Linked DNA regions of Homo sapiens: regions 1 and 2 are each linked to region 3. The links come from fine-mapping of genetic effects on gene expression. A gene starts in region 3. Each other region holds a variant in brackets. All regions are shown on one strand. Distances are between the middles of the regions. Region 1 overlaps NGEF (neuronal guanine nucleotide exchange factor). Region 2 overlaps NGEF (neuronal guanine nucleotide exchange factor). Region 3 holds the start of NGEF (neuronal guanine nucleotide exchange factor).

Evidence for each region. PIP is the estimated chance that this variant, and not a neighbour inherited with it, causes the effect. A credible set is the group of variants that fine-mapping cannot tell apart.
Region 1: its variant is the best candidate, but not a certain one, in a credible set for the expression of NGEF in testis (GTEx, PIP 0.70).
Region 2: its variant is the best candidate, but not a certain one, in a credible set for the expression of NGEF in adrenal gland (GTEx, PIP 0.82).

Annotation. Positions count from the first base shown.
Region 1 is chr2:232,886,950-232,889,707 of GRCh38, reverse strand. NGEF (neuronal guanine nucleotide exchange factor) reads left to right here. Exons shown (of 15, transcript NM_019850.3): 9 at 1,601-1,675. Among named protein-coding and RNA genes, the nearest start is that of SNORC, 18 kb to the right of the region's middle. The variant C/T (reference allele first, on the strand shown) is at 1,078.
Region 2 is chr2:232,900,706-232,903,463 of GRCh38, reverse strand. All of the region lies in intron 5 of NGEF (neuronal guanine nucleotide exchange factor), which reads left to right. Among named protein-coding and RNA genes, the nearest start is that of SNORC, 32 kb to the right of the region's middle. RefSeq lists enhancers at 725-1,924, 1,806-2,429, 2,430-2,758. The variant C/T (reference allele first, on the strand shown) is at 1,646.
Region 3 is chr2:233,012,084-233,014,841 of GRCh38, reverse strand. NGEF (neuronal guanine nucleotide exchange factor) reads left to right here and starts at 1,586. Exons shown (of 15, transcript NM_019850.3): 1 at 1,586-1,774. LOC101928881 (a long non-coding RNA gene) reads right to left here and starts at 2,228. Exons shown (of 3, transcript NR_136325.1): 1 at 1,873-2,228; 2 at 1,595-1,702.

The sequences.
Region 1 (2,758 bases), 130 kb after region 3:
AAAGCCGGGATGGCGACCCCAAACCGGAAGACACCTGTGATGAACGCAGTTCCGTGGGAAATATTTTTTTAACTTGGAAAAAGTGAAACAGAAGACAGTAACATTTCCTAATTATGCAGTGAAAAATATTTTAGGACATTTTATAGGGAAAGTGCATATATGAATATATTAAAACCTTAGCTTCTATAAGATGAAAACCAACAGTAAGATTAAAAGCAATGGAAATGCAGTGATTAGGAAATGGTGGAATGGGGACAGCTGGGGTGGGCACTCAGGGAAGGGCTCAGAGAAAGGGGTGGCGGGTCAGGGACCATTCCAGAGAGAACGGCAAGTCTCCACATCAGGCAGCATGCTGGGGACACACCGAGTGGAGGCTGGCGTGGGAGAGCACGTGCCAGGCTAAGGAACCCATACTGCCCTCCATCTGAGGCCACCAATGCCACCTGGTCAGATGCAGCTTTTATGCCTGTGAGAAAAGATGGCGTCTAAACCGTGCTGTTCAGCAGGGATTTGGAAGTAGGGGGACAGTTAATGACAGGCATGGTGGCCACATACAGGATGGAAAAAGCAGGAAGGTGGCTGTGGGTCTCGAAGGTCTCTGGCTTGGCTGCCAGGCAGAGGCGGGCAGGTGACCACAGGAGAGGCCTGGGCTGCTGTCAGGGGAGACATCTGTGCTGCCGTGGCACCCAGCAGCCGGGAGGACAGGTGGTTGGTGCCCAGATGCACCCAGCCTACTTACAGGACAAAAGCCAGTCAGAAAACGTGGGCATGGTGGGGACCGCTAAGAGGAAACCATGTGGAGTTTATAGAGCAATGTCAAAATCGTAATTTACAGGTGAAAGCAGTATGGGCATAATTTTTTGTTAACTGAAGAAAATTGAACAGTTGGAGAAGAGACTCTTTCTTACACTTTCATGGAGAAGACCAAAGTTAACAAAGTTTCGGGGCCAAATGACAGTCCCAGGGAGGAGAGGGAAGCCCTTGGTCCCCCTACCCCTGTCCCGTAAGCATTTAGCTCCCCTTGGGGACAGAGCTGACCCTAAGCGTGACAGTCCTCACTGCTGGGTGCCACACCTG[C/T]GGGCTCTCTTGCTCTCCATTTGTCAGATGGAGGCTGTGTGTATGTGTGTGCGTGCATGCGTGTGTGTGTGCAGGTATGCATGTATGTGCATGCATGTATGTGTGCGCACACATGCTTGTATGCATGTTTGTACACGTGTGTACATGTGTGTGCACTGTGCTTGCAAGTGTGCATGCATCGTGTTGTGCATGTGTGAGCATGTATGCACGTGTGTGCATGCATGTGTGCACGTGTGCTTGTATGCATGTTTCTACACGGTGTGCATGTGTGCACACTGCTTGCAGGTGTGCATCATGTGCATGGTGTGCATGTGTGTGCGAGCATGTATGCACGTGTGTGCACACGCAGGTCTGTATGCATGTGTGCATGCATGTATGCGTGTGCGTGCGTGCGTGTGTGTGTGTGTGCATGCTGCAGCATGGGGCTGGACTGGTGCAGTAGGGAGGTAGTCACGGTCAAGGTGGGAAATGGGAGGAAAGACCAGAAAAGATTAAAGTTAACGCAGCCTTTCTCTGTGCATAGAACATCCTGAAGAGGGTAGAAGAGAGGTCTGAGCGGGAGTGCACTGCTTTGGATGCTCACAAGGAGCTGGAAATGGTGAGTCTCACCTCCTCTTGTGCTGTATCCCAATGCACTGTTTTCCTCATCCAGGCACACCTTTCCGGCCCTGCTCCCCACATGTCCGTGTGTCTTTTTAGAATATGCAAATTTATTTTAAAATTCACTTTTGCAATCAAAAGAGTCACTGGGGCTTAAAAAAATACACCAGGCATGGCTTGGGTAGAGAGCCTTCTTTACCCTGCTTCCTGGCTCCAGCCTTACGTACTCACCGCCTGTCTTGTTACTGTGCCTGGCATGGATGTGGGGACAGCAGCGTGGCTCTCAGGACATTCTTCACCAGTGTGGAGCTCTGCGATCATGCACAGGCCCTGATTCCTCTCATCAGCTCCCTGGGATTGTTCTTTGCAGGCATCTGGGGCCCACACAGACCCCAGGCTTGTCTTTGCCTGTTTTTCCATGTCAGAAACAGTCTCTCCTCCCTCCTGTGAGGCTCACCGAGGCTGGTTCCCACTTTCCCTGTGCCCTGATGAAGCCCTTTGCTCCGAACCCAGCCCTCCACGCCACTCTCCCAGTCCCCGGAGCTCAGTCACCCCTGTGCATCTCTGTGAGGGGATTCACTGGCCCTGCCCAAGAGCCCTGGGCCTTTGCTGCCCAAGAGTGCAAGGACCATCTCTCCAGACCATCTCCTGACCCTCAGAGAGAGACGGCTCCTCCTAGAGGTTTGCAGCAGAGCAGGGGTTTTGCGGGAAGGGCCAGCGAGTATGTTTCAGTCCTCAGGAGCTCTTACCATGCGCTCTGCCACGTTTGGCTCCTGGCATCAGCTGGAGCTGAGAGCCAGCTTTTGACAGCTGTGCTAGGGCACCTCCATTGAGCCAGTGACGCCGTCATGGTGGAGAGCAAGGCGGGGGATGTCCATATTCCACTTCTTTGTCACCCCATGGCAGAAGCTTAGTAAAAAGAATATCACTCTCAGTGGGCATCTGATGGTCATTCTCAGCCACATTGAGACATGAGGACTTCCTACCCTATTGCAGTCGGTTCCCACCTCGGGCCACTCCTCCTGTCCCTTTCCCAGACCAGTTGGCCACCAAAATTCCTCTGGCAGTTACACGCTGTGCC
Region 2 (2,758 bases), 110 kb after region 3:
AGGTGTGTGTGTGTGTGTGTGTGTGTGCCCTCATGTCACACAAATGTAAACTAGTATTAAAATACTGACCATATCTTTCCATCTCCATCCAAATAGAGCACCCTCATTTTTGCAGTTTTCTGGGCTCCACTGTTTAGATGTTCCATAATGTATTTAACCTGTCCCTGTTGATGGATATTTGCAGTTGGAAATACCGGGTACTGAGAGTGTTCATTGCAGCATTATTTATACTCATGGAAGATTGAACATCTACACAGTGGAATGCTAAGGGAATTGCTAAGTGGGATTGTTGGGTGAAAGGTTAAATGTTCTTTAAATTTTGAGAGGGTATCGCCTAATTGCCTTCACACACTAGCCACATATGAGTGTGCTGGTCCCCTGCCACTAATGTGGTGCCTTACCCAGCTATTTTCTCTTTACCCAGTGTGCTAGATTAAACATTTTTTGTTTTGTTTTGTTTTTGTTTTGTTTTAAGACAGTCTCACTCTGTCACTTATGCTGGAGTGCAGTGGCGCGATCTCAGCTCACTGCAACCTCCACCTCCCAGGTTCAAGTGATTCTTCCACCTGAGCCTCCCAAGTAGCTGGGATTACAGACACCGGCCACCATGCCTGGCTAATCTTTTGTATTTTTAGTAGAGACGGGGTTTCACCATGTTGGCCATCGAACTCCTGGCCTCAGGTGATCCACCCGCCTGGGCCTCCCAAAGTATTGGGATTACAGGTGTGAGCCACCGCACCCGGCCTCGTTGTGGTTTTAACATAACATTTCTCTTGCCATGAGGCAGGCTGAACATGTTCTCAAGCATGTGTCTTTTTAAATTTACACACACTTATTTTAGCATGTAAACATTTTTGCGAATGATTTTATTAACAGGTCATCTTGAGAAAACGTAGTAATTGGCATTTGTGATGTGTGTGAGTGCCGAGGCTTGGGTTTGGGCCCCCAGCGCCTGCATCCCATGGCTGCGTTGAATATGTGACTCCCCTCGTCCCTTAGCAACCCAAGGGGTTAGCTGTCACTCCCCCATCAGACAGCCAAGCCCCCACTCCCCACGCTGCTCACGGGACCTGCTCAGTCCGGCCTCGAATTCACTAAAGACTGCGCTGCAGCGGGCTGGGCTCGGGCTCTGGCTCTGGAGTCCGACTTCATCATCATTGTCTGCAGAAGGAGGATAGCCTTTGAGGGGTTTCTTCTTAACTGGAAGCCTTTTAAAGTCACTTCCGTGCATCCTGATGCCTGCAGTGTAAATGACTGCACCAGCAGCAGGCACCGAGGCAACTTTGTGACCTTGCTGTTGAGTCATCCTGGGGAACAGAGGATGTGAATCACCCCAGGGCGGCTGCAGCAAGAGGACTCTGTGGGGCAGGAGCAGAGAGTGGAGAGCTTGGGAGCGCCCTGCGCCCCTGGCTCTGGCTCTGGCCCCAGCTGCTAGAGGAGAGAGAGGAGTGGGCCATGGTGATCCCCGTACCACACACACCCCAGCCACTGCCCTGCCGAGGACAGACTGAGGCCGGGTCTTCAGCGGCCCAGGTGGCCCTGATAGCTCCCAGCAGCATACTGGAGACACGGAGCCTGGATGGTAGGGCCTGTGCTGAGGTGTCACGGCGACGTCCCCACAGCCTCTAAGGGAGTCCCGGAAGGA[C/T]GCCTTAGACCCTTGGCATTCTGCCTGGCCTTCTCTTCATCCCCTCCCTCCCTCCAGGCAAAAGCCAGTGAACTAAGTTGGGCTCCAGGCCAGTGCCCTGATGCCCAGGACTGGGGGTGACCTGTGTGGGGAGGGCCTGGCACACGGGTGGATGGGAAGGGACCTCGCAGAACCCTTGTGGGGAAGGGGCTACGTTTTGTTTCCTGGCCGTGAGGAAGGTGGAGGGCAGCCAGTGAGCCCGCCCTTCAGTCCACGGTCTGCTGGCCTTTGGCTCCGACCCCCGCAGATGTCACCCTGGTGACGCAGCTGCAACAACGCATCGAAGGTCACAGCATCAGAGACAGCAGTGATTTGTTAACACAGGGGTCGGGAGAAGCCAAAAAAACAACCCAAATCAGGCTGGAATGCACGGCCCAGAGGTCCACGGCGAACCCTGGATCATAAGGAGACCGTGTAGGTAAAGAGCGGGGAGGAGAAATCGCGCAGCCTCGAGCTTTGCTGAGGGTGGGGAACGCAGGGTTGATCCGAGTGCGGAGGCAGGAGTGGGACTCCGAGGACAGACACTGTAGTCCCGGCCGGCCAGGCAGCATGGCCCATGTTTGACCGTGAACTGCAGGACAAGCTGAACTGCCTTAAGTAACAGGGAATTGGGGCCCGCGGGCTGCGTAAAAGCCCGTCGCTCTTTGGGTGTTAGAGCTGGTAAAGCTTCCGCCTTTCTCCATCAGGAGCAGGTTGGCTTCCTGCAGACTTTTCTTGGTGTCCTGGTTCCTCTTTTGTGACCTCTTGCTGATGGGTCTCTTTTGTTTTTCAAATGTGTGACTTGAACAGGGTGGTGTAGGCGGCCCTAACTCCGGGACCTGGCTGATCTGAGGCCGCCGGACGTCACCACCCCAGAGCAGCCCCGTGGCCCGCGCTGCCTGAGAGGGGGCCTGCTCACCTGGCTTCAGGTCCTGGTCCTGGCCCCACGGGCAGCGTGGCTCCCAGTGCCTCTGTGGGTGATTGTGTGAGAGCATGTGTGTGTGTGAGTGAATGTGTGCATGAGTGTGAGAGCGTGTGTGTGTGAGTGAATGTGAGTGAACGTGTATATGAGTGACTGAGAGCGTGTGTGTGAAT
Region 3 (2,758 bases):
GATGGATGGAAGGGTGGGTGGATGGATGGGTGGGTGGATGGAAGTGTGGATGGGTGGATGGATGGGTGGATGGGTGGATAATGGATGGATGGATGGGTGGATGGATGGGTGGATGGGTGGATGATGGATGGATGGGTGGATGGATGGTGGATGGATGGATGGACGGATGGATGGGTGGATGGGTGGATGGATGGGTGGATGGGTGGATGGATGGGTGAGAGAATAGATGAGAGACTACTTCAATCTGGCTTTCAGGGACAAAACTGAAACCCATGTTTTGTGGCAATCAGATGGCTGTGGGAACTTTCAAAGATGGCCCTCAGGGACCCCCACCCCTGGTATTGTGCCCTGTGTAATCCCCTACCTTTGAGTGTAGGCTGTGCCTGATGACTTCCTTCTAACGAGTAGAATATGCCAGAAGTGATGGAATATCACATCCTTGAGTATATTACAAAAGACTGACCTACCTCTTCCCAGACTCTCTCCATAGCCCTCTCTGATGCAACGAGCTGCCAGGGCGGAGAGGCCCACATGGCAAAGGACTGATAGTGGCCACAGCTGACAGCTGAGAGGGGCTGAGGCCTTCATCCTACAGCCCTAAGAAACTGAATCCTGCCAACACCAGCAGCTTGGAAGTGGATCCCCCCTAGTGGAGCCATGAGATGAGACCTCAGCCCCTCCAACACTTGGATGGCAACTTATGAGAAACCCTGAGCAGAGAACCCAGCCAAGCAGTGCCCAGACTTCTAGCCACAGAAACTGAGATGACAAATGAGTGTTATTTCAAGCCACACACTTTGAGTTAATTTGTTTCCAGAACAGATAGCTAAAACAAACGCTGATTTGAGTTTTATATAAAGATGGATGATGTAGCAATTAAACTTGGCAAATGATGGTAGTGGTTTTGATACTAGTTGGCTTGGGTTTGAATCCTGGATCCCCAACTTACTAGCTGTGGGGCTTTGAGCAAGATGATCAATTTCTTGAGCCTCTGTTTCTGCATCTTTAAAATGGGCATGATTCTCTGGTCATAGTGACAACACAAGGATTACATAGATTATGTAATGTACTTAGCCCAGTGCCTGTCATGTAGTAAGCACTGGATTAAAGGAAGCTATTAGAGGGAATAATAATAATAATAATAATAATAATAATAATAATAATAATGGAGCAAGATGCCTTACAAAGCAGTGAGTGTTCCATGCCTGGAAGTGATTGAGTTAAGGCCAGATGGCCATGGCAGGAAGTGACTAGAACCCTGGAGGACCCCAAAGCCTCTCCCAAATCTCAGATTTGAGGGCCGTGCAGCTGGCTTGGCCAATGCTTGGGGTTGGTGGGCCAGCTGAGCCACGGGCCCCTCTTGGTGTGACCATCAGCATTATCTTGCACTGGGCGGGCGGCGGGTATTCCAGCCATGCCCAGCCTTCCCCTCAGATAGCCCTTCCCTCCTGCACCACTTTTGTGTCAGGTATGTGGCTGCCACCCTGGCTCAACCCATGGGGCCCAGGAAGGTAAACACCCAGCCGGGAAGTGATCGTTATGGGCTCGTGGCCAGCTATGGGCCAAGGCAGGTCTAAAGGTCGGGAATGCTTACCAGTGAAGCTTTTCCAGGACAGGACGAAGTTTTTGGCTGTGGGCTCTCTGGGACAGAGTGGAGCGCCTGTGGATTTAGCCGGGGACACACCATCCTGCTCGCAGGTGCCTGGACAGGACAGGGGACGAGGGAGGAACACTCTCTGAGGAAGCCCAACTCCTATGAGCTCCTCTCTGGCAGGTGAGAGAATGGTTTTGGTATTTTTTAAAAAAATAAAATGAGATAAAACAAGAGAAGGAACAGAGGCTACCGCTAGGACAGGTAGGAAAGGAGATTACCACCCATCCATTCACTGAGGAGGAGCCCCCAAGAGAAACAGCAGCCCTGGATTCCACCCGAGGGATCCTGTCTGGTCTCGGCTTCAGCACTGCCCCTCCTGGCACTCAGTTTCACCATCTGGGAATCAGGATAAGGACTCCTTCCAGGCGCTCTTCCATTATGGCTGTGGGGTAAGTGAGATCAAAAGCAGGAATGGCTGCATAATTGCAGGGCCCTGTGCAATATAAAAATGCAGGGCCCCTTGTTAAAATAGTAAGGCTTTCAAAAGGACAACAACACAGCATTAAAGCAAGCCGGGGCACCTTCTAAGAACAGGGCCCTGTGACTGCCCAGGCCCCACACCCACGACGCCAGTCCTGATAATGAGCGTATATGTAAACGGAAGTGCCCTGATTCCTGTGTGCCATGGCACAAATCTCAGGGTCAGGAAGTGCACTTGGGAAACAGAAGTCATAGTCGTGAAGTGACAGCCCACTGCGCTTTAGCTCCCCCAGCACTGCCCCCTCCGCTCAGGGGCCCCTTTCAGAAAGACAGAAGGCCCTACCCCTCAGAACCTTCCTGATTTTTGCATCTGGCTGGCCTCAAGCCACAGCACGGTGTGACTGAAATGTGTAGGGACACAGTTTTCTTGGATGTGAAAGTGGTAGGTTCTTATTGTCTATCTTGATTTAAAATTTGGGACAGTCACACAGTCTCTGGCTGTGTAGAGGTGGGACTTGTGTTTCCTGGGCTCGTGACAGCTCTGCTATGTTCCATTGACTATCAGTGTATTTCTGCTTTTTGGGAAAATCCTTAATGCAATAAGGCCACTGGTGGGAATGTTCCAGCTTGGACACTTGCCATGTGTCTTTGTCCTCCCTGCCCCTTCTCTCTTTCTCTCTCTCT